Linked DNA regions of Homo sapiens. The protein of the gene in region 1 interacts with the protein of each later gene in a biochemical or structural test. Each region holds a gene or a part of one and is shown in the gene's direction. Other genes may lie near its edges.

What was found.
Region 2: the proteins of AKAP13 (region 1) and RTKN form a complex in vitro, tested with the Homo sapiens proteins (one study listed by BioGRID).
Region 3: the proteins of AKAP13 (region 1) and PRKD1 form a complex in vitro, tested with the Homo sapiens proteins (one study listed by BioGRID).

Annotation. Positions count from the first base shown.
Region 1 is NC_000015.10:85,383,560-85,390,670, forward strand, and holds part of AKAP13 (A-kinase anchor protein 13), read left to right. Parts: intron 1-116; exon of another isoform or gene 117-176; intron 177-503; exon of another isoform or gene 504-551; intron 552-647; exon of another isoform or gene 648-838; intron 839-7,111. UniProt on the Homo sapiens protein: Scaffold protein that plays an important role in assembling signaling complexes downstream of several types of G protein-coupled receptors.
Region 2 is NC_000002.12:74,438,844-74,445,892, reverse strand, and holds the start of RTKN (rhotekin), read left to right. Parts: upstream 1-3,955; 5' UTR 3,956-4,076; coding exon 4,077-4,187; intron 4,188-5,309; exon of another isoform or gene 5,310-6,270; coding exon of another isoform or gene 6,271-6,342; intron 6,343-7,049. UniProt on the Homo sapiens protein: Mediates Rho signaling to activate NF-kappa-B and may confer increased resistance to apoptosis to cells in gastric tumorigenesis. May play a novel role in the organization of septin structures.
Region 3 is NC_000014.9:29,917,761-29,924,871, reverse strand, and holds part of PRKD1 (serine/threonine-protein kinase D1), read left to right. Parts: intron 1-7,111.

The DNA of each region.
Region 1 (7,111 bases):
AAAGAAGGGGCCTTGAGACTTGTGAGTCTTATCGAAGTCTATTTCTTCAAAGGTGCCAGATGAACTGAAGGATAATGGAAACAATAGCGAGTTTATCTTCTCAGTCACCTGTGAGTCTTCCTTTGAGAGTGGGACTTGCAGAGTGGCTTGGTAGGGTAGAGCTCTTTGTGACTATGCTATTTGGGCAACAGTGAGAGATGGATTGTTTTCAGTACATCAGTCATAAGAGGATATGAGTTCCAACTTTATTTTACCTTAGTCTTGGCAAATAAGTGTGGATTGTGTCTGTATTTCTCAAACTTGTTTAAGGTAGAGCTGGACTGGGTGTTAACAGTGTTAGTTCAGTACAGAGACATGAGCAAATCACTCACTTCCTCTTCAAGATAACACTTTAAAGGTGACACCATTTACAGAAGAAGGCAGTGATTTAAATCAGTTATACTAGCATAGTTTAGAATACTTACACTACCTAGATGGAGTAGATACATTCTAGAAATATTTACCTGTTAAGGACATTTCTTTAGATTTTATTCCATCTTTCCATTAGTTTTCTGATGAAGAGATTATAGTAAACCTTTAAAAATTATATTTGATCAAACTTACAGATTGAGGATAAACCTTTAAAAATTACAGTTGGTCACACTTACAGATTGAGGGTAAAAACATTCCTGACAAAGCTAGGCGAAGAAAGTTGGACTTTTGATGTTCCCTTCTTTTAAAGTTAACATCTGGCACTTGAATAGACTTGGTTATTACTGATGGGGACAGGCATCCATTTGGAAGTAGCTTCCCTCTCTCTTTCCCAGGTTAGGCTGTCTTACTGCTGTAAATGGGGAGAGACGAGAAAGCTGTGGGTGGAAGAAAGTTTGTTTCATAGCCTGGCGCAGTGGCTCACGCCTGTAATCCCAGCACTTTGGGAGGCTGAGGCGGGCGGATCACTTGAGGTCAGGAGTTCAAGACCAGCCTGGCCAACATGGTGAAACCACATCTCTACTAAAAATACAAAAACTAGCCCGGCAGGGTGGCAGGTGCCTGTAATCCCAGCTACTTGGGAGGCTGAGGCAGGAGAATCGCTTGAACCCGGGAGGTGGAGGTTGCAATGAGCCGAGATCATGCCACTGTGCTCCAGTCTGGGCGACAGAGCGAGACTCCGTCTGAAAAAAAAAAAAAAAAAGGTTTGTTTCATGCATCTGTCCTCACTGGTCAGTGGAAGAAAGTTTGTTTCCTGCGTTTGTCCTCATATTTATAGTTTTCTCGTCCACCTACAAGTTGATTGTGACGTTATGAATAGAAGATGAATGGATAATGTGTTTTTGTCAGACCTTGCTGTAAGGATGGACCTGGTACTGAAATACCGTGATTGTATGAACATTTGTGTGGGGCAATGCTGTGTTCAGTGCCTGGGGAATGTGGATATCAGTGTGTTTGTATGATATGGGTGCTAGTATGGGAGAGAAGGAAAACGTGTGAGGTTTTTGACCATTTATGTCACTCTGTAAGCTCTTCTCTGGCTACTTTGGTGCTATAGTAGCAGAGTTGAGTAGTTACAACAGAGACCATGTGATCTGCAAAGCAGAAAATATTTACTATCTGGGCTTTTACAGAAGTTTGCTGACCCTTTTTCTACATAACCAACTGCAGTTATTCACAACAAGAAAGATTAACGTTAATTCTATAATATTATTCAATACCTATTCAACTTTCTCTATTTGTCTCCCAAATATCTTTTATAGTTGATTAAGAAAAATTTTGGACAGAGTAAAATTAAAGTTCACTCAGCACATCATTATGTCTCTTTAGTCTCTATTTTTTCATTCTTTAATTATTCATATGTATAGTTTACATTCACTAAAATTCCGCCATTTTAGTGTAACATTCTCTGAGTTTTGACAGGTGTATACATTCATATATCCACTGCTGCAAACAGGACAGTCCCTTCATCCTCCAGAATTCTTCTGAGCCCTTTTGTACTCAACCGGTTCTCTACCCCCAGACTCTGGAAATTGCTGATCTGTTTTCTGTCTCCATGGTTTTTTGCCTTTTCAAGAATGTTGTAAAAATGGAATCACACGGAATGTAGCCTTTTTATTCATTTGCCCAATGACTAATGATATTAAGTATCTTTTCATCTGATTATTTGTCATTCTTTGATGTCAATTCAAAATCTTTTGCTTAAAAAATGAGTTTTTGTATATACTTTGGAATCAAATACATGATTTGCAGATATTTTCTCCTAGTCTGTTTTTACTTGTCTTAATAATGTCTTTTTTTGTTTGTTTGTTTCGAGATGGAGTTTGGCTCTGTCACCTAGGCTGGAGTACAGTGGTGAGATCTTGGCTCACTGCAACGTCTGCCTCCTGGGTTCAAGTGATTCTCCTGCCTTAACCTCCCGAGTAGCTGGGATTACAGGCACACACCACCACACCCAGCTAATTTTTGTATTTTAGTAGAGATGGGGCTTTTCCATGTTGGCCAGGCTGATCTTGAACTCCTAACCTCAAGTGATCTGCCTGCCTCGGCCTCCCAAAGTGCTGGGATTACAGGCGCGAGCCACTGTGTCTGGCCTTCTTGTCTTAATAATGTCTTTTGAAGAGCAGAAGTTCTTAATTTTTATGATATCCAGTGTTTTTTTGTTTTTTTGTTTTTTCCCTGAGTGGATCATGCTTTTGGTATAATAGTTTAGAAATCTTTGCCTAACTTAAGAGCTCAAAGACTTTCCCCTATATTTCCTCCTACAAGTTATTATTTTTTTTTTTAGAGATGGAGTCTCACTCTGTCATCCAGGCTGGCGTGAGTGAGATCTTGTTCACTGGAATCTCCGCCTCCCGGGTTCAAGTGATTCTCCTGCCTCAGCCTCCTGAGTAGCTGGGATTACAGGCACCCACCACCATGCCTAATTTTTGTATTTTTACTAGTGATGGGGTTTCACCATGTTGACCAGGGTGGTCTGAACTCCTGACCTCAAGTGAGCCACCCACCGCAGCCTCCCAAAGTGCTGGGATTACAGGCGTGAGCTATTGTGCCCGGCTCGCCTAGAAGTTTTATCATTTAAAATTTTATATTTACATTTATTATCTGCTTTGATTTAATTTTCCTAAATGGTGCAAGGTATGCATTGAGTTTATTTTTTTGTGGATGGATTTACAATTTTTCCAGCAACAGTTTTTGAAAAGACTGTCCTTTCTCTGTTGATTACCTTTGTGCCTTTTTTTTTTTGCAAGTTGATCATAAATGTGTGGTTTTGTTTCTGGATTCTCTCTCCTATTCCATTGATCTGTGTCTTTCATTTCTCTATCACCTCACTGTTGATTACTGTCACCTTAGAGTAAGTTTTAAAATCAGGTAGTGTGAGTTATCTTATTATTTTTCAGAATTGTTTTTTGGGTATTTTAGTTGCATTGCCTTTTGTGCATATTTTAGATTCATCTTGCTGTTATCCACAAGTCCTGCTGGGTTTTTCTTTTTCTTTTTTTTCTTTTTTAAGATGAGGTCTCAGCCGGGTGTGGTGGCTCACGCCTGTAATCCTAGCACTTTGGAGGCTGAGGCGGGTGGATCACCTGAGATCAGGAGTTCGAGACCAGCCTGGCTGACATGGCAAAACCCCGTCTCTACTAAAAAATACAAAAAATAGCTGGGCGTGGTGGTGGGCGCCTGTAATCCCAGCTACTTGGGAGGCTGAGACAGGAGAATTGCTTTAGCCCGGGAGATGGAGGTTACAGTGAGCCGACATTGCGCCACTTTACTCCAGCCTGGGTGATAGAACGAGAGTCCGTCTTAAAAAAACAAAAAAAGATAGGGTCTCACTCAGTTGTCCAGTGTGGAATGCAGTGGTAGGATAACCACTCACTGCAGCCTTGATCTCCTGGGCCCAAGCGATTCTCCCACGTCAGCCTCCCAAGTAGTTGGGATCACAGTCATGCACTACCTGGCTAATTTTTTTATTTTTGTAGAGACAGAGTCTCTCTATGTTGCCCAGGCTGGCCTCAAACTCCCGGGATGAAGTGATCCTCCCACTGTGGCCTCCCAAAGTGTAGGGATTACAGGCATGACCCACCATGCCCAGCCTGCTGTGGTTTTTGATTGGCATTGTGTTGAAGCTGGAAATCAGTTAGGGGGCAATTGACATTTTAATAATGAGCCATGAACATGGTATATCTATTTAGACCTTAGATTTTTGATTAGTGTTTTGTAGTTTTTAGCAATTGGATCTTGCATGTGTTTTGTAATCTTATACATGTATTTCATGTATTCTGGTGTTGTTGTGAATGATACTTCTCAATTTCCAGTTGCTCATTGCTGGTATATAGAAAGATCATTTTATATTATTTGCTGACCTTGGATCCTACACCCTTGCTAAACTCATTTTTAGTAATAGAAGCTTTTTTTGTAGATTTTTGGAATTTTCTGCATAGACATTATTGTCATTGGCAAATAAGGGCAGTTTGATTTCTTCGTTTTCACTTTGTATACTTTCATTTCCTTTTTTTTTTTTTGAGATAGAGACTCGCTCTGTCACCCAGGCTGGAGTGCAGTGGTGCGATCTCAGCTCACTGCAACCTGTGGCCCCCCAGGTTCAAGTGATTCTCGTGCCTCAGCCTCCTAAGTAGCTGGGATTACAGGTGCATGTTGTCATGCCCGGCTAATTTTTGTATTTTTTTTTTTTTAAGTGGAGACTGGGTTTCACCATGTTGGCCAGGCTGGTCTCAAACTCCTGACCACAAGTGATCCGCCAGCCTCAGCCTCCCAAAGTGCTAGGATTACAGGCGTGAGCTACAGCGCTGGGCGTGATTTCTTTTTGTTACTTTGCTGAACTATCTAGGACCCTCAGTGTAATGTGTAATAGGAGTTTTACAAGTGGACATCCTTTCCTTTTTCCTGATGTTAGAGGGGAAAACACTGAGTGTTTGACCATTAATATGATGGTAGCCATAGGTGTTTGTTTTTGTAGATGTCTTTTATCAAGTTGAGGAAATTGTCTTCTATGTTTAGTTTGCTGAGAGTTTTTATCATGAATAGATATTGAATGTTGTCAAAGGTTTTTCTGTATTTATTGACATAATCATATGTTTTTTCTTCTTTAGTCTGGTGTAATACGTTGAAATAGCTTTGCATTCTTGTGATAATACTCATTTAGTCGTGATGTATTATTTTTTACATGTCTTTGGGTTCCATTTGCTACTGAATCTTTTTTTATTTCTTCCATTTGTTTCCCGTTATGTTCATTTTAAAAATAGGTTCTTGATCATATGTATAATATTCATGATAGTTGTTGAGTCCTTATCTGTTAAATGTCAGATGTCTCCTTGGGGGTAAAGTTATTTCAAACACAAGAACCATTGCTTTAAAGAGTATCATACTTTGTTTTGGCAAGTTAAGTTGCCAAACTTATGTGTGTAAGTTGCTTGTTACACCCCATTACTAAGGCATGAAGCTCCTGTAGTTTTCATTGAAGAATTGGGCTCTCCTTGAGGACTCTATTCTGGCAGTTGAGAACACAAATGTCTCCCAGCCCTGTGTGAACTTTGGAGATCATTTAGCTTACAGTTCCTGGGTGATTCTTTGCGTGCCCTCATGTATTTTTACAATATGCATGCTTGGCTTACTACTGGGTGTGAGACTCATGGGGCCTCTATGCTGATTTCTGGAGCTCCTTTTTCATACAGCTCCCTCCTCTTCTCTCGTACTCTGCAATTTTCAAACTCCTTAGCCTTCCCAAGCTATGTTTGTTTTCTAAACTTGACAAGGCTGTCATGTTGTGCTTGATCCTCCTCATTGCACCATGGTCTAGAAGGTACCTCCAGCCAGAAAGCTGGGGCGATTTTAGGGCTTATCTCATTTGTTCCCTTCTCTTTGGGACTGCAGTTCTGTGCTACCTGTTGTTCAGGCTCTAAAGGATGCTGCCTCATGCATTTTGTCCACTTTTCTAGTAGTTAGGGAGGATGCCAGGATAAATCTGGATCCAGTTACTCCGTCATGGTTAGCAGCTGAAGTCCTTTGGGTGAGTATGCTTTGTTGGTGGTTCTTAAAATTTCATTACAGGATTCTCAAAATCTTTGGGGGTATAAATAACAAAGAAGTATTTGTTGACTATCTTCTGACAGTAGCTCAGCCATTGCTTTGTGGGAAATACAAAACAATGTAGGTATCTTTTAGTTGAAGAGGCACATGGTACATACCTAAGATTAATCAAAGAAATGAATTGCTATGGTGATGAACAGAAAGAGAAGGATCACTATAATCTATTATTTTCTGTCCCCCCGTGGGGGAGTCTTCCAGTGAAAAGCAGAAAACCTGCTAGACAGATTCTAAAAGATCTGTAACACTTGTGATCTGGTGTTTTCATGTAGAAATGCTTGCTTTTGCGTTTTTGTTTCTTAGCATATATGCTTTATGTCGCAAGTTGTAGTGAGTCAGTGGGTAGAGTGCTGGCTCTTTCAGGTGCATTTGCTATTTATTTACTATGCAGCTTTAGGTAAGTTATTTGTCTCTGAAATCTAATCTTCTCTTTTCTCTTGGCAAATGGTTATATGACATACCTTGTAGGGTTGTTTGTTAATTTTTTCAAGTATCTTTTGTTTGTCAGGCACGGTTCTAGGTAATGGGAATTCAGTGACATCTGTAGTTGCTGCCGTTAATCTATATCCTATTGAGGGAAGTAGAAAATAAACGAGTGAACAAACAATTGCAGTCATGTCTGGTGGTGATGATTCTAGGAAGGATATGAAGAGTATTAGCAGAGATTGGGGAGGTCAGACAAGGCCTTACTGAGGAGGTGAGATTTGAACAGACCTGAAGAAAGTCAAGGGAGCAAGTCACATGAAGATTCAGAGGAAGTATGGAAGGAACATCAAGTGCAAAGGACCTGAGATGGGAGAATGAACAGGGAGCCTGGTGTGGCTGGAATGGGTGAGAAAGAGCGTGAGGAGATAAGGTTTGTATGTGTAGCCAGAGACCAGATCAAATAGGCTCTTAGGTATGGTGGGAAACAGCTGAAGGATTTGAGCAAGGCATGACAAGGTTGATTTAGGCTTTAAAAACTTTACTCTTGGCATAGGGAGCAGTAGTGGAAACGGAGAGACTAGTTAAGAGATTTGCAGTCGTTCAGGCTAGA
Region 2 (7,049 bases), on another chromosome or scaffold:
CCTCCAACTGACTAATGGAAAAGGCTGCCAAATTACGATCTCTAAAGTTAATTCTGGGAGGAGGAACAGTGGTCACGCCTGTAATCCCAGAACTTTGGGAGGCTGAGGCAGGAGGATCACTTAAGGCCAGGAGTTCAAGACTAGCCTGTACGATGCTGTCTCTACAAAAAAATTTAAAAATTAGCCTCGCATGGTGGTGCACGCCTTTAGTCCTAGCTACTCAGGAGGCTGAGACAGGAGGATTGCTTGAGCCCAGGAGTTCAAGGCTGCAGTGTATTATCATGGCACCACTTTGCTCTAGCTGGGTAACAGAGTGATATATATTATATAAATATATATATATAATATAATATAATATAATCCTGATCATGTCCCTCCTTCCCAAAAATCTTCAGCCACATTGAGTACAAACTCTCAGGCAGGATTTGAGCTCAACCTCCTTTTTGAAGATCCTCCATTCCTCTGCCTCCTTCCTGGGTCTCAGGCCAGGGGTTTTCAAACCCGTCCACAGAGCTTGTGTTCACTGGGGGAGCAGGGAGCAGCTGAGCACCTGTGGGTAGACAAGGCATGAGGCTCTAGCACCTGCTCCCATCATAGCAGCTCTGATTTGATTTCACACATTTCAGGTAAGATTTCATTAAAAAAAAAAGGTTCTGTTGCTTAAAAACAAACATTTGAAATGAACTATCTTAGTCCAACAGGATGGCACATCTCAGTCAAGGACTCTCAAATCTGTTTGCTTCTCTTTTATTTACTTCAACTGATGTTTATTGATCACTTGCTATGTCCCAGGCACTGGGGATAAGACAGACTGCCCCTCCCTAGAAGGCTTACAGTTCAGAGGAGTGATGATGAATATTTGAATAAATTAAGGAACAATATCTTTCCCTTTCTTTCCCCTCACACGTCTTTTGTGGTTAATCTCAGATGCCATGGACTTTATAAATCTTTTGATCTGCCTTTCCTACTGACCAGAAGAACTCCCTTCTCCATATAAAATTTTGTGTGTGGAGGATGTTGGTTGTTTTTCCTGTTCATTTTCCATTCTCTCACCTTCTGGTGGTAGTGGTTGGAACATTCTTTGGGGAACAACCCTCCCCCACCTTCTCCCTCCCAGTTCACTGGGTTCTGGTTAGTCTCCAGGAGTGGGCAAGTGACCCCAAGCCTGGCCAGCTGGCACCTAGAACCTCCTTAGCCACAGCAATTGGTTCAGATCTGGCCACCGTCTGACTCCAATGATTGGTTTGGGATGGATGAATGATCACAAATGTCTCACAGCGAATCCCAGACGTGTAGGAGCCTCAGGAAACAGATGCTCTCTTTTCAGCTGAATTTAAGCCTGAAAAGATATAGACCCAGAATTTTGGGCAGCAATTTCGTTACACTGTGGAGAGTGAAGCCAACGTGGAGGAAAGTAGAGCCAAGTGATGGGAAGAGACTGGATATTCCTGACACTCAATGAGTGGGTTAAGCCACATCTAAAGCTTGACCCCTGGCTCATTTGTTTGTATTGGCTCAGTTCCAGGAGCCGATGCATTTCCCCTTTTGCTTTAGTACTTTTCAGTCAGCTTTTCCAAAAGAATGTTGAAATGATTTGCCATAGCAAAACATTTCTAATCTGGACTCTCTAAGAGCTCAAGACTGGTATGTCTCTGGGTCCAGCCAGCCTGCCATGTAGGAGTCTCACCCTTTCTCAAGTTCTGTGTTCTGAAGCCTTCAGGAGATCTGTTTATGTGTGATCAGCAAGTTAATCCTTTGCCATTTCCTTCTCTTCCACTGGGCTTTCCCCAGAGGGGGCAAGAAGGGAACCCTGTTTTTTGTTTGTTTGTTTGTTTGTTTGAGACAGAGTCTCGCTCTGTCGCCCAGGCTGGAGTGCAGTGGCACGATCTCGGCTCAGTGCAAGCTCCGCCTCCCAGGTTCAGGGCATTCTCCTGCCTCAGCCTCCTGAGTAGCTGGGACTACAGGCGCCCGCCACCATGCCCGGCTAATTTTTTTGTATATTTAGTAGAGACGGGTTTTCACCGTGTTAGCCAGGATGGTTTCGATCTCCTGACCTCGTGATCTGCCCCCCTTGGTCTCCCAAAGTGCTGGGATTACAGGCGTGAGCCACCGCGCCTAGCGGGAACCCTGTTTTTATGGAAGCAGGGAGTGGTAAGTCCAGCCGGGCAAGTCCAGCCATCCAGCAAAGCAGCTGATTATATCTATATCTATCTATATCTATATCTATATCTATATCTATATCTATATCTATATCTATATCTATATCTATATCTATCTATATCTATATCTATCTATAGATAGATAATATTGGCCAGGCGTGGGCCACGCCTGAAATCCCAGCACTTTGGGAGACCAAGGCGGGTGTATCGCCTGAGGTCAAGAGTTTGAGACCAGCCTTACCAACATGGTGTAACCCCATCTCTACTAAAAATACAAAAATTAGCCAGATATGGTGGCAGACGCCTGTAATCCCAGCTACTCCGGAGGCTGAGGCAGGAGAATCGATTGAACCCAGGAGGCAGAGGTTGCAGTGAGTCGAGATCATGCCATTGCACTCCAGCCTGGGTGACAGAGTGAGACTCTGTCTTAAAAAAAAAAAATTAAAATAAATAAATAAATAAATAAATAAAAATAAAAAATTATACATATTTGTAATGCTTTTTAAGAGATGGGGTCCCACTATGTTGCCCAGGCTGGACTTGAACTTTCGGGCTCAAGCAATCCTCCCACCTTAGCCTCCCGAGTAGCTGGGACTACAGGTGTGCACCACCATGCCAGGCCAATTTGTGTGTGTGTGTGCGTGTGTGTGTGTGTTTTGTTGAGACAGGGTTTCATGTTGCCCAGGCTGGTCTCCAACTCCTGAGCTCAAGAGCGATCAGTCCCCCTTGGCCTCCCAAAGTGCTAGGATTACAGGCTTGAGCCACTGCACCCAGCCATCTTTTTTTTAGACGTAGTTTCGCTCTTGTTTCCAAGGGTGGAGTGCAATGGTGGGGTCTCAGCTCACCACAACCTCTGCTTCCCGGGTTTAAGCGATTCTCCTGCCTCAGCCTCTCAAGTAGTTGGGATTACCGGCATGTGCCACCATGGCCGGCTAAATTTTGTATTTTTAGTAGAGATGGGGTTTCTCCATGTTGGTCAGGCTGGTCTCGAACTCCCAACCTCAGGTGATCCACCCTCCTAGGCCTCCCAAAGTGCTGCGATTACAGGCGTGAGCCACCGCGCGCAGCTGCTCTTTATGACTGCAAATATGGGGCACTTGCCTTGTGCCAGGCACTATGCTGGGCATTTTACCCTCATTCTTATAGGTAATCCTCATAGCAACTTGAGGAGTGGAGATAATTACAGTATTCCCACTGAACAAATGAGAAAACTGAAGCTCAGAAAGGCCAGTGACTGGACCAAGTTAATGATTGCACGGTTAGTTAGTGACAGAGCTGGGGTTTCACGACGTGTTTAAGCACCGCCCCATCAGTTGTGGCCACTAGGCTTAGGCGGATAGCCTCGCAGAGGAGCCTAGGTGGGGAGGGGGACGAAGAAGGAACATTTGGGACTGTGGGATGTTGAAATGGTCTCTTCGGAGGCTGCCGGGATTGAAACTGGGCAAGGTCCCAGGGCCCGAGTAGAGCCAGAGCGTGCTACGCGGCGATCCCTGAGCCACGGGGTTTTCAGCGCCCGGGAAGCCAGGCTTGCCAGGTTGGGGCGGCTGGCGGGGCAGGGCTTCTCGGTCCGTCCCAAGTCCAGGTAGGCGCTCGCGACCCGCGCGGGCAGGGAGAACGCGCTCCCACAGTGCTCGCGAGGTGCAGTGCGCCCCTGGGGGCTCCGGGGCCGTCGGGCCAGGTCGGCTTGGCGCCCAGGGACTGGCCGGACGGGCTGGGCCTTTGGCGGGGGTGGAAGAGGAGGTTGCCGCGCCCTGCCCGGCCCAGGTGTCGTCTCCGGGGGCGGGGTTTGGAGCCCCGCAGCGGGAGATTCCCGGCCGGACTGGCGGACGAGCGTCGAGAGACAGAAGCCGAGGAGAGGAGGCTAAGCCGGGCGGCGCGGGGAGCGCACTGAGCAGGCAAAGTCGCAGGGCCGCCAGCATGTTCTCCCGAAACCACCGGAGCCGGGTCACCGTGGCCAGGGGCTCCGCCCTGGAGATGGAGTTCAAACGCGGCCGCTTCCGACTCAGCCTCTTCAGCGACCTGCCCGAGGTGAGAGACTCGCGTCCCTGCCTTCCCCTTCCGCGGCTCCCGGGGGCAGCCCCAGCCACCTCGGCCTCCTTCCCTCGCCCGCGTGCACGCCGAGGGGCGGAGACGCACGGTCTGGGTACAAACCCGACGGAGTTGTTGACTTAAAAAGTAAGGTGTGGACGGTCTGCATTTTCATCGGATCCATGCTGCCCATTCCGCGGCCTGGTTAGGATTATCTGCCTGAGCCTGGAAAAAGCCCGGGTTGGTCTCAATTTGTAGGGCCCCAGCTCGACTCCTAAAATGTGCCTGAACCCCAAAATGTCTTGGGCATCCCCGGGCCAAGGGCGGTGGGCAGCTAGGCGGGCCCCAAGCGCTCGGACTCTTGGCCTGGGCTCCCGCTTGTTCCCCAGTCGCCAGCCCCATCCCACAACCTGTCGCAGCCATCTGGGCCAGCCTCTGTCATCAACCCCGACTTTAGGCCGGGGCCGCTCGCTTCCCCGAAGCCCAATTCAAAGGCTCCTCTATGCCCCTGCAGGGCTTTTAACTCCTTGGGGTTACTTCCCACACGCAAAATTTCCGCCTCCTTTTCTGGGGCCTAAGAGGAGTCCAGCCCCTAGGCTGAGCGTTTCCCCCGTCCGCCGTCCACGCGTTAACCTGTTGGATCCCCACCTGTAACGCCCTAAGGGCTAGGGCGGGGCTGAAGGTGTGTGGTTGAGCGGGGACTGAGAGGGCGAATAGCTACCCCGAAGACTCTTCTGTCCCCAAGGTCAGACTCACACTCGCCCAAGGAGAGCCCAGTTCCAAGCCTTCCCTTCCGGGTCTGGAAAGGGTTAAGTGAGGTGGGCCTTCCTTCCGCCCCCTCTACCTCCCGGCTGGGATTCCAGGCCTGGCTTCTGCCCTTTCCCTCCAGCCTGCCCAGAACAAAGAGGCTCTTTCACACCCTTGTCCCGGCGTCCCGGGCCTTCTCTGACTCAGAAGCTAGTGGACCTGGGGAGAGGGGGCCTTTGTCGCGTCCCCTTGCCCCCAAGCGACTGGGCCCGAGGAACCCGCGTGGGGCCAGCGTGGGGGAGTAAGGGGCGAGGCCCGGGACCAGGGGGAGGGGCCTGTGAGCTGGGGCCGCCCCTGGGATTAGCCCGGCCTTCGGGGACAGCTCGGAGGAGCTGGGGCGGAGCCGCAGGGCCTGGCGGCCGCCGAGTGAAGTGTGACTCCGTGGGCCTGGCGTGGAGGCGGGGGCGCTAGGCTGCAGCTGGCTCGGAATCGGGGCTGGTTTCCTGTCTGGAAGGGAAGGGGCCTGCAGAAGGGAGCGGGGACAGCAGCAGACAGGCACACCCCTGCCTTCCTCTCTCCCTCTCCTCCCTTCTCTGGAAAAGCGAGGTAATTGTGAGCCCAGGGTGGAGCGGGCTGGATGGGGGCCCTGAGTTGGAAGGGGTGGCCCTAGGGCTGGGCTGCTTTGCCAACTCACCCCTTTGTCCCATTCCCTGGGCTCACTCTCCCCTGAGGTCCTCACCTGTGTGGCTCTTTTTCCCAACTTTCTCAAACTAAGCTGGAACCCCTCTCGGGAAGCTCCAACCTCCTGCAAACCCCATGACTCTAGAACCTGCATGAGGCGTCGTTTCCCTGCCCCCTTCCAGTTGTGCCTGCCCCTCACTGCCCTCTCCGCACACAGATTCCCTGTCCACCAGGCCAGGGATGTGGGCGGGGGCTGGGGAGCGGCCAGAGTCGGAATGAAAGGGCCTTTTTCTTCCACAGCTGGGAGAACAGCTGCCACCAAAGCGAGACTGGACACTCTGTGCCTAGAGCCCCCTCTGCAGCTGGCCTTTCCTCCTGGGACCCCACTTATCCTCACTTCGCTTTCTTTTTCTTCCCTGCCTGGCTCCCGGCAGGGCCCCGGAGCAGCAGTGGGCGAGGAAAATTTGTCACAGCAGCCAGAGGGGTTTAACAGGAGTGCAGAGGGATAAGGGCAGCTTCTGCCCTCTGCCCAAGAGCTGGCCACCTCTTTAAAGACTGAGGGAACAGTGGGAGGAGGAACTGTGGGACAGTGTGGTACCTATCTGTCCCCCCTCTGGAGGGGTTGACAAGGGAAAGGGCACCGGGGGGCACAGAGATGCAGGACAGATTGCACATCCTGGAGGACCTGAATATGCTCTACATTCGGCAGATGGCACTCAGCCTGGAGGTAATCCCCCGACCCTTGGAGTACACACCTCCTTCACTTGCATCCCAGCCCCAATCTCTGCCCTGCCCATTCCTGCTACAGCATGGTGGGGAGAGCCAGGCCTGCTTAAAGTGGGAAGAGGGACAGGTGGTTCCCTATGCCTTGTGTTGGGTGCAGTGTGTGGACCCAGGCTCAGTTCTGCCCATCATAGTCTTATGTTTGCAGCAGGGTCTTTACACCTATTTCAGGAAGCTCTGTGGGTGAGTGTAAATGTCTGTTCTGGGGACAAGGGTTCCTTTTAGGCATGGGAAGAAGAGAGGAGTTCAATGTGAGAGAGGTTTACAGAAAGGATGTAGCCTTGCTAGAGAAGAGAAGGACTCTGGGCTATGAGTAAGGATTCTGCTGGCCCTTGAGACAGCAAGGTGCTGTTTATTCGTGTATTTGTTTTTTTCAATTCTTTACAGAGACGAGGTCTCACTATATTGCCCAGGCTGGTCCTGGCTCAAGTGATCTCCCTACCTCGACCTCCCAAAATGCCGAGATTACAGGCGTGAGCCACTGCACCTTGCGCTATGTATTATTAAACACATGTAAATTTTATGTACTATCTGCCAAGCTCTTTTCGACCATAGGATACCTCAGTGAATAAGACAAGAAAGTTCCATTGTAGTGGGAGAACAGAAATATACATACGAACACATAAATAATATCACATAAAGAAATTATGA
Region 3 (7,111 bases), on another chromosome or scaffold:
ATCACAGGATACAGGATCTCTGTGTGTTGTGACAGTAGGAATGGCAGAGTGTCAGTGTGGAGTTAAGGAAGTGGGAGGGAGTTCTTTTGTCTTTTATTTCAGTTTTTTTTTGGAAGTACCTTATGAGGACGTCAGCTATGAGGAAGGATGACAGGAGTTTGGGGATTGGATGTTTCAGGAGAGAGCAGAGGGTTTGAAATCATTTACAATTTACTATGTGGGCTGAAGTCGTGTGGAACTTACAGCAGAAGGTTCTCCTGATCTTTCTGAGTCTTCCACATCTGTTGTTTTAAATGTGTTAAGAAGTTTTTCATTCACTTTGTTCAGGAGCTCCCTAAGTACTAACATAGATCATACGAGCATTGGAAATATTAGCTGACAGTTTCAGTAACATCACAGGACATTTCCTTTGGGATGAGCAACTGAGGTGTACAAGGCTGCATAAGTTTCCCTGAGAAACTCACCTGTAAATTATTATTGTTATTATTTAGAATTTAGAGTATAGTTGTTCTCTAATTATGTAGCAGACACGATTGTACTTGAAACATTGTGATGGTAATTCAACAAAAAATACTTATTTTAAGATAACGTACCCTAAGTATATACTGACTTATATAAGTAAAGAATTATTTCTTTCATCTTCTAGTTTAGGTGAAAAATCTAGTCTTGCTTTTTTGTATGTAACAATGTATGGCTATATAATATGTTATTCTTTCTTTTTAGAAAGTATTGATCCAGGGTTTTATTTACATTATGTTTGTTTATTTAGTTTGCAAGTGTGTGACGTTGAAGCCTGGTTGTATATAAAGATATGTATTCTGTTAGTGTACATGGTTATTGTTTTCAGGAGGGTAAAAAATAATAACAATCATTGACTTCACTTTGAAACACTGTTACTTTCTACTGTCAAAGAAACCTTGAATATGTAGACTGAGGAGGAATTGTTTTAAAGCAAGGAAAAAAATTCCAGAGGAAGAGCTAGTTTGGTTTCATAGTACATCATCTACTTATCTACCACACACACAAACACACACACATACTTTTTTTTTTTTTTTTTTTTTCCTCAAATGAGCTGTGTTACTCTTTAGGGATGCTTGATGCCATTAATATGATTGTTCATTTTGGTTATTACCTTATTAGAAAGGCAACTGATATTTTACTCTTAAATGTACTTAAATGGAGTAATAGCATTTATAAGACTCCTGGCATATAGTTTCACTTTTCAGAATCATCTTTTGGCTAAAGAAATTTAACAGTGAGATTTTAAGTAGATAGCTCACTAAAGAAGTAAGGTTAGTGCCTTGGTTTGAAAGTAGCATTACTTTGCTTGTAATTGTTTCACTTTAATTGTATTATACATTGTTTTCTTAATAGTTGTGATGTCATTTTTCTCTTTATTACTAATTTTAGATACTCCACACATTCCACATAGATTGAGAAAGCCGAAAGTAATTAGGTGCTTGATCAATCCAACTCACCTGGACCAACAAACTCCTTTTAAACTAATGATGGTCTTTGGGGCTTAGGTGTATATATTTTTATTCCAATTTTATAATTGGCTATATTATATGTCTACTGATTTCTGATTTAATGATGAAGTATAGAATTTGTCATTTTACTGTGTGTTTTTTTTTTTTTTTTTTTGACAGAATCTCACTCTCTTGCCCAGGCTGGAGTGCAGTAGCACAATTACAGCTCACTGCAGTCTTGGCCTCCAGGCTTAAGTGATCCTCTCACCTCAGCCCCTTGAGTAGCTGGGTCTACAGGTATGGGTGACCATGCCTGGCTAATTTTTAAATTTTTTGTAGAGATGGTATTTTGCCATATTGCCCAGGCTGGTCTGGAACTCCTGGGATCAAGAGGTCCTCCTACCTCGGCCTCCCAAAGTGCTGGGATTTAAGGAATCCCACTGGGTGTGAGCCACTGGGCCTGGCCTATTAAGTGATTCTTAAGTAATATAATTTTAGTACTCTAATTTTATTTTTATTATTTTATTTTTTGAGATAAGGCCCAGACTACAAGTACAGTACATAATCATAGCTCACTGCAGCCTCAAAGTCTTGGCTAATGTGATCCTCCTGCCACAGCGTCCCAAGTGTTTGGGACTACAAGTGTGTGCCACCACATCTGACTAATTTTTATAATTTTTTTATACAGACAATGTCTCACTGTGTTGCCCAGGCTGTTATTGATTTCCTGGCCTCAAGCAATCCTCCCACCTCAGCCTTCCAAAGTGCTGGGATTGCAGGCATGAGCCACTGTGCCCTGCCTGTACTTTTAAAATTTAAATTTCTTTTCAAGTTTAATAATGTAACAGGATTATATTTTGGAACTGTATATTATGTATTACAGATGTGGAATTTATATGTAGTAGATTATGTTTAACTATTTTTTAAATATATTTTTAAGAGCTTCCTTATCCTTGTATAGCCTCCAGATGTGAAGTATTGTTTTATATTTTGTGTTATAGACTGCAAAAAATGAGGCCTCATCACATATCTCACAATCCCAAAGAGAAACTCTGCTTTACATTTTTCTTTTTTTCTTTACTTTTTCTTTTTTTTTTTTTTTGAGATGGAGTCTCGCTCTGTTGCCCAGGCTGGAGTGCAGTGGTGCAATCTCGGCTCACTGCAAACTCTGCCTCCTGGGTTCACAGCATTCTCCTGCCTCAGCCTTCCAAGTAGCTGGGACTACAGGCGCCTGCCACCATGCACTGCTATTTTTTTGTATTTTTAGTAGAGATGGGGTTTCACCGTGTTATCCAGGATGGTCTCGATCTCCTGACCTCGTAATCCGCCCGCCTTGGCCTCCCAAGAGAAACTCTGCTTTATATTTTTCTATCAATTCACAGACTTATAAACCTTTTTAAAACAGGTATGTACTATTTGACAGTTTTCACAAGAATATCCTGTGAGACTGTGAAGTTAAAACCATTAAGCCTTGTAGTCCATGGGCTGGGAAGAGTTGGATGATTGGCTCATTTGATAAATACATGAATTCATTTGGGCCTTTAGATTCAGAATTGAGATCAATCTGAAAGAGTAAAAGTACACTGTGTATGGTGGTGGTGGTGGTGGGGGTTACTGGAATAAGGTTTAAAAACTTGCCCCAGAAGACCATACTTCATGACTGTGCTGTTTATTTTCACCAGATTCCTATCATAGCTTTTATGGGAGATTTATAACTTTATTTTCTAATGATTATTACCTTTTTTTGTGAGATGATTGTATATAAGTCTTCACTAATTTATTCATGAATAACTGTTACTGACCTTACTAGAGAATGCAGAACATTTGTAAGTCAATGAATGTATATTTGTGACTTATCTAAGATTACTTTGAGATTTAAAGACAATATATGTAACATACATACTGCTTTGTAAATACGTGCATAATAAATGCTGTTGTTTACTAAAGCTTAAAGCTCTATAGACTAGCATACTGTCTTATTAACAAAAGAAATTTATATTTATTATCTTATTCTTATATCAATATATAATTAAAATTATAATATTAAAAAAAGCAATATGGCTGTAAGGCCCAGGTGACATCTTTTTCCTGCCCTCTGTATCAGGGCAAATCTTAGAAGTAGTTATGTTTTGAAACAGTTTCTCAAATCTCAAACTCTCAGCATTCTTTAAGGACTAATCTAATTATTACTAAATGAAAGACACATTTGCTGATAAAAGTAAAGCATATTTTCATTGCTTTTTATTATTTTTGACAGAAAGATGATTTAACTCCTTTTCAATTACAAGTGCAATGTCAATGGTATTTCACTTCATTTTTTAAAAAGGAAATAAAATAGATAAAGGTGCAACATTTGGGAACACAATGATTCAAAATTCTGGTTCTCAAGACCAAAATTTAAAGCTTATTTGCAGATCATCGCTTGATACATGAGAAGGAAGGTGCTTGGAAATGACGTAGGGAGATTGCAATTTGCTGTCATGCTAACATCTAGAGGTTGTTTGCTAAATTGTTCCATCTGATGATAGCTAATATAACATAATTGGTTGTGCATATGCAGAAATGTCATTTTGAGATGAGAAGGCAAATTTACTGGGAAACAATTGAGTTATCAGTTTGGCAAAACCAATCACAAGTCTTTTTTAGATATTCCCACTACCTACCACTTATCTGTCATGGAAGTCCATGCCCCATTATAAAACCTTTAGAAAACCACAATCTTTAATTATTTATAAATCTTTTAAAGAAGAGTGTAATGGATAATTATATGAAACTTTGTGTGTGTGTGTGTGTGTGTGTGTGTGTGTGTGTGTGTATTAGACTGGAATCATTGAATAAGCTCTCAAACTATACCAAATAACTAGTATAATGATCAATATTGCAGGGCTGGACTCAGACTGTTAGAACTTGGTAGAATGCAGTCTTATAGGTGTTGATGGTAACATGAAGTTTCCTTCCTTGCTTTGTTTTTATATTTGTTTGCTTTGATTTATGTATCAGGGTAATCTTTGACCTCTGACCTTGCGCCATCACCTTGTTTAAGGTGAAAAATCTAAACCCAAATGTGGCAATAGAGGTAAAAATATAGGGTGTTTTTTAATAATAAAAGATACTACTCATCTTTTAATTTCCCCAGCATTACTTTAGAGTGATTTTGAAAATGAGACTTCAATTTCTTAAATCTTTCCTTATTGTTGGAATATGTTGGAACAAAACAAGACAAGTGCTTCCTTCCTTCCTTGTTTCCTTCCTTCCTTTTCTTTTCTTCTCTCTTTTCTTTTCTTTCTCCCCTTTCTTCCTTTTCTCTTTTCTTTTCTCCTTCCTTCCTTCCTTCTTTCCTTCCTTCCTTCCTTCCTTCCTTCCTTCCTTCCTTCCTTCCTTCCTTCCCTCCTTCCTTCCTACCTTCCTTCCTCTCTTTCTCTCTCTCTCTCTCTCTTTCTCAGGGTCTCACTTTAGTCACTCAGGCTGGAGTGCAGTGGCACCGTCTGAGCTCACTGCAGCCTCAACTTCCCAAGCTCAGGTGATTCTCCCACCTCAGCCTCCCGAGTAGCTGAGACTACAGATATGTGCCACCACGCCTGGATGATTTTCTGTATTTTTAGTAGAGACAGAGTTTTGCCATGTTGCCAGGATGGTCTTGAACTCCTGTGCTCAAGTGATGACCCACCTGCTTCGGCCTTCCAAAGTGCTAGGATTATAGGTATGAGCCACTGCGCTCAGCCTCATTTCCCTCTTTCTATTGATAGAATTTAGATACAAAGAAAATGGTGATTTTCCTTACAACTATTCAAAACATTTTTTAATCTATAAGAATATGAGATATTTCCCACAGGAATTCTTTTAATACTGTCAACCAAATATTTTTGTGCCATTAAAAACCAGTTGTGATAGCACCACTTGAAGTTATTTGGCAGCAGAGAAATTCACGTTGTTCTGTTTCTTACTTTTTCTGGTCTCATCTAGAAAAACAGATCATTAAATATACAGAGTGTTCAATTATATGGCCACTATGGCTGTTATGGAATATCATATAATTTAAATAGTTAAGAACTGGTACAAAAACAATGCATATTCAGACAAATTTCGGCTGTCTAAATCTACAGTTTCCTGTGTAGAAGTTTCTTCCAAAGTTATGAAAGGTTTTATTTGGCTTAAGCCAGACAATTGATATAGTAGCTTAGCAATGTTGGCAAACATGAAACTTAGATTTTAAAATATGCAATCACACAGGAATTTTGTTCAACTTATTTTGGTGAAAAGGAAAAAAATATACACCCTTCACTAGTTCATTGGCATCTATTCTGACTAAACCACTGATTGATGAGGAACTAGTGAATGTATTGCTTGTTTTTAGGCACAATTTCAGGAATTTCTGAATGCTTCTCTCCTTAATTGTCAGCAGCCACTTTTCCCCGCATATATTATAAAACAGTTGAAAAGTATTAATTTAGTAATGAAAATATGAATGAAAAGTATGAATGTGCATAATATATGGTGTTGTTGATAATTAGTTTGATTTTTTCCTACACTCAGTGTTCTTACAGTTAGGTGATTCTCTCAACCTGAGCAATTGCTCAGTGTAGGGTGAAAAGATTAAAGAGATTGCTTATTTGCAGTTATGTAAATATCCACAGTAATCATGAACATTTTTATTTTTCAGTTTGTTTGATTCCATAGCAATTCTGGTTAGGAGTGGCATGTTATACAGGCTTTTGCAAAAGTATTGACATTATTTCACACAATGTCTTGTACAGTCAGAGAGATTGGGGAGGAGAGGACTGAAGGGGCAGTTAAAAACTAGAAATAAAGAGTCAAGTGGTAAATTGAAAAGGCCAGAAAAGTGGAACATTAGATTAAAGGGTCACCACTTGTGTTACGGCAAGTATTTCAGCTACTGTGAGCAGGTGAACATTGAGATCTAATGGTTAGCACCATCTGAAAATATATTCAGAAGCTTCCTAATCAAATTGTACATATGGTACATATTTTTGGTGTCATTGGGGTCATAATAAGTGTTTTTCTTTTACATTTTTGTAAATTACTATTTGATATTTTCATAGTTCTGACTGTTTGAATTACCTGTCTCACGTTGAGTTCCCTTTGTAACACTGCAGGTGATCCTACAAGATTCTTTCTCCCTCCCCAGCATTATTAAGGTATAATTTACTAATAAAAATTATATATACTATGATATATAATGTTTTGGTACATGTATACATTGTGCAGTGATTAAATCAAGCTAATTAACATGTCCATCATCTCACAGACTTATCTTTTCTTGTGTGTGTGGTGAGAACATTTAAAATCTACAATCAGGCAATATATTTCCTGCTTTGAAAAAATCAATTTTGGGGTACTAGGCTTAGTACCTGGGTGACAAAATAATCTGTACAGCCCCCCCATGACACAAGTTTACCTATGTAACAAAACCGTACATGTACCCCAGAAACTAAAATAAAAGTTAAAAAAATCTATTTTTTACTTAAAAAATTATCTACAGGTATGTAGATTTGCTATAATCATACTCTTCAGTTCATAGCACATTTTTTTCATCAGTCCAAGTAAGGATCCTATTGCGTTATGTTTTATTTTGTTTCATTATTTATTTTCAACCAGGCATTGGAAGAACTGTGGTATAGGTA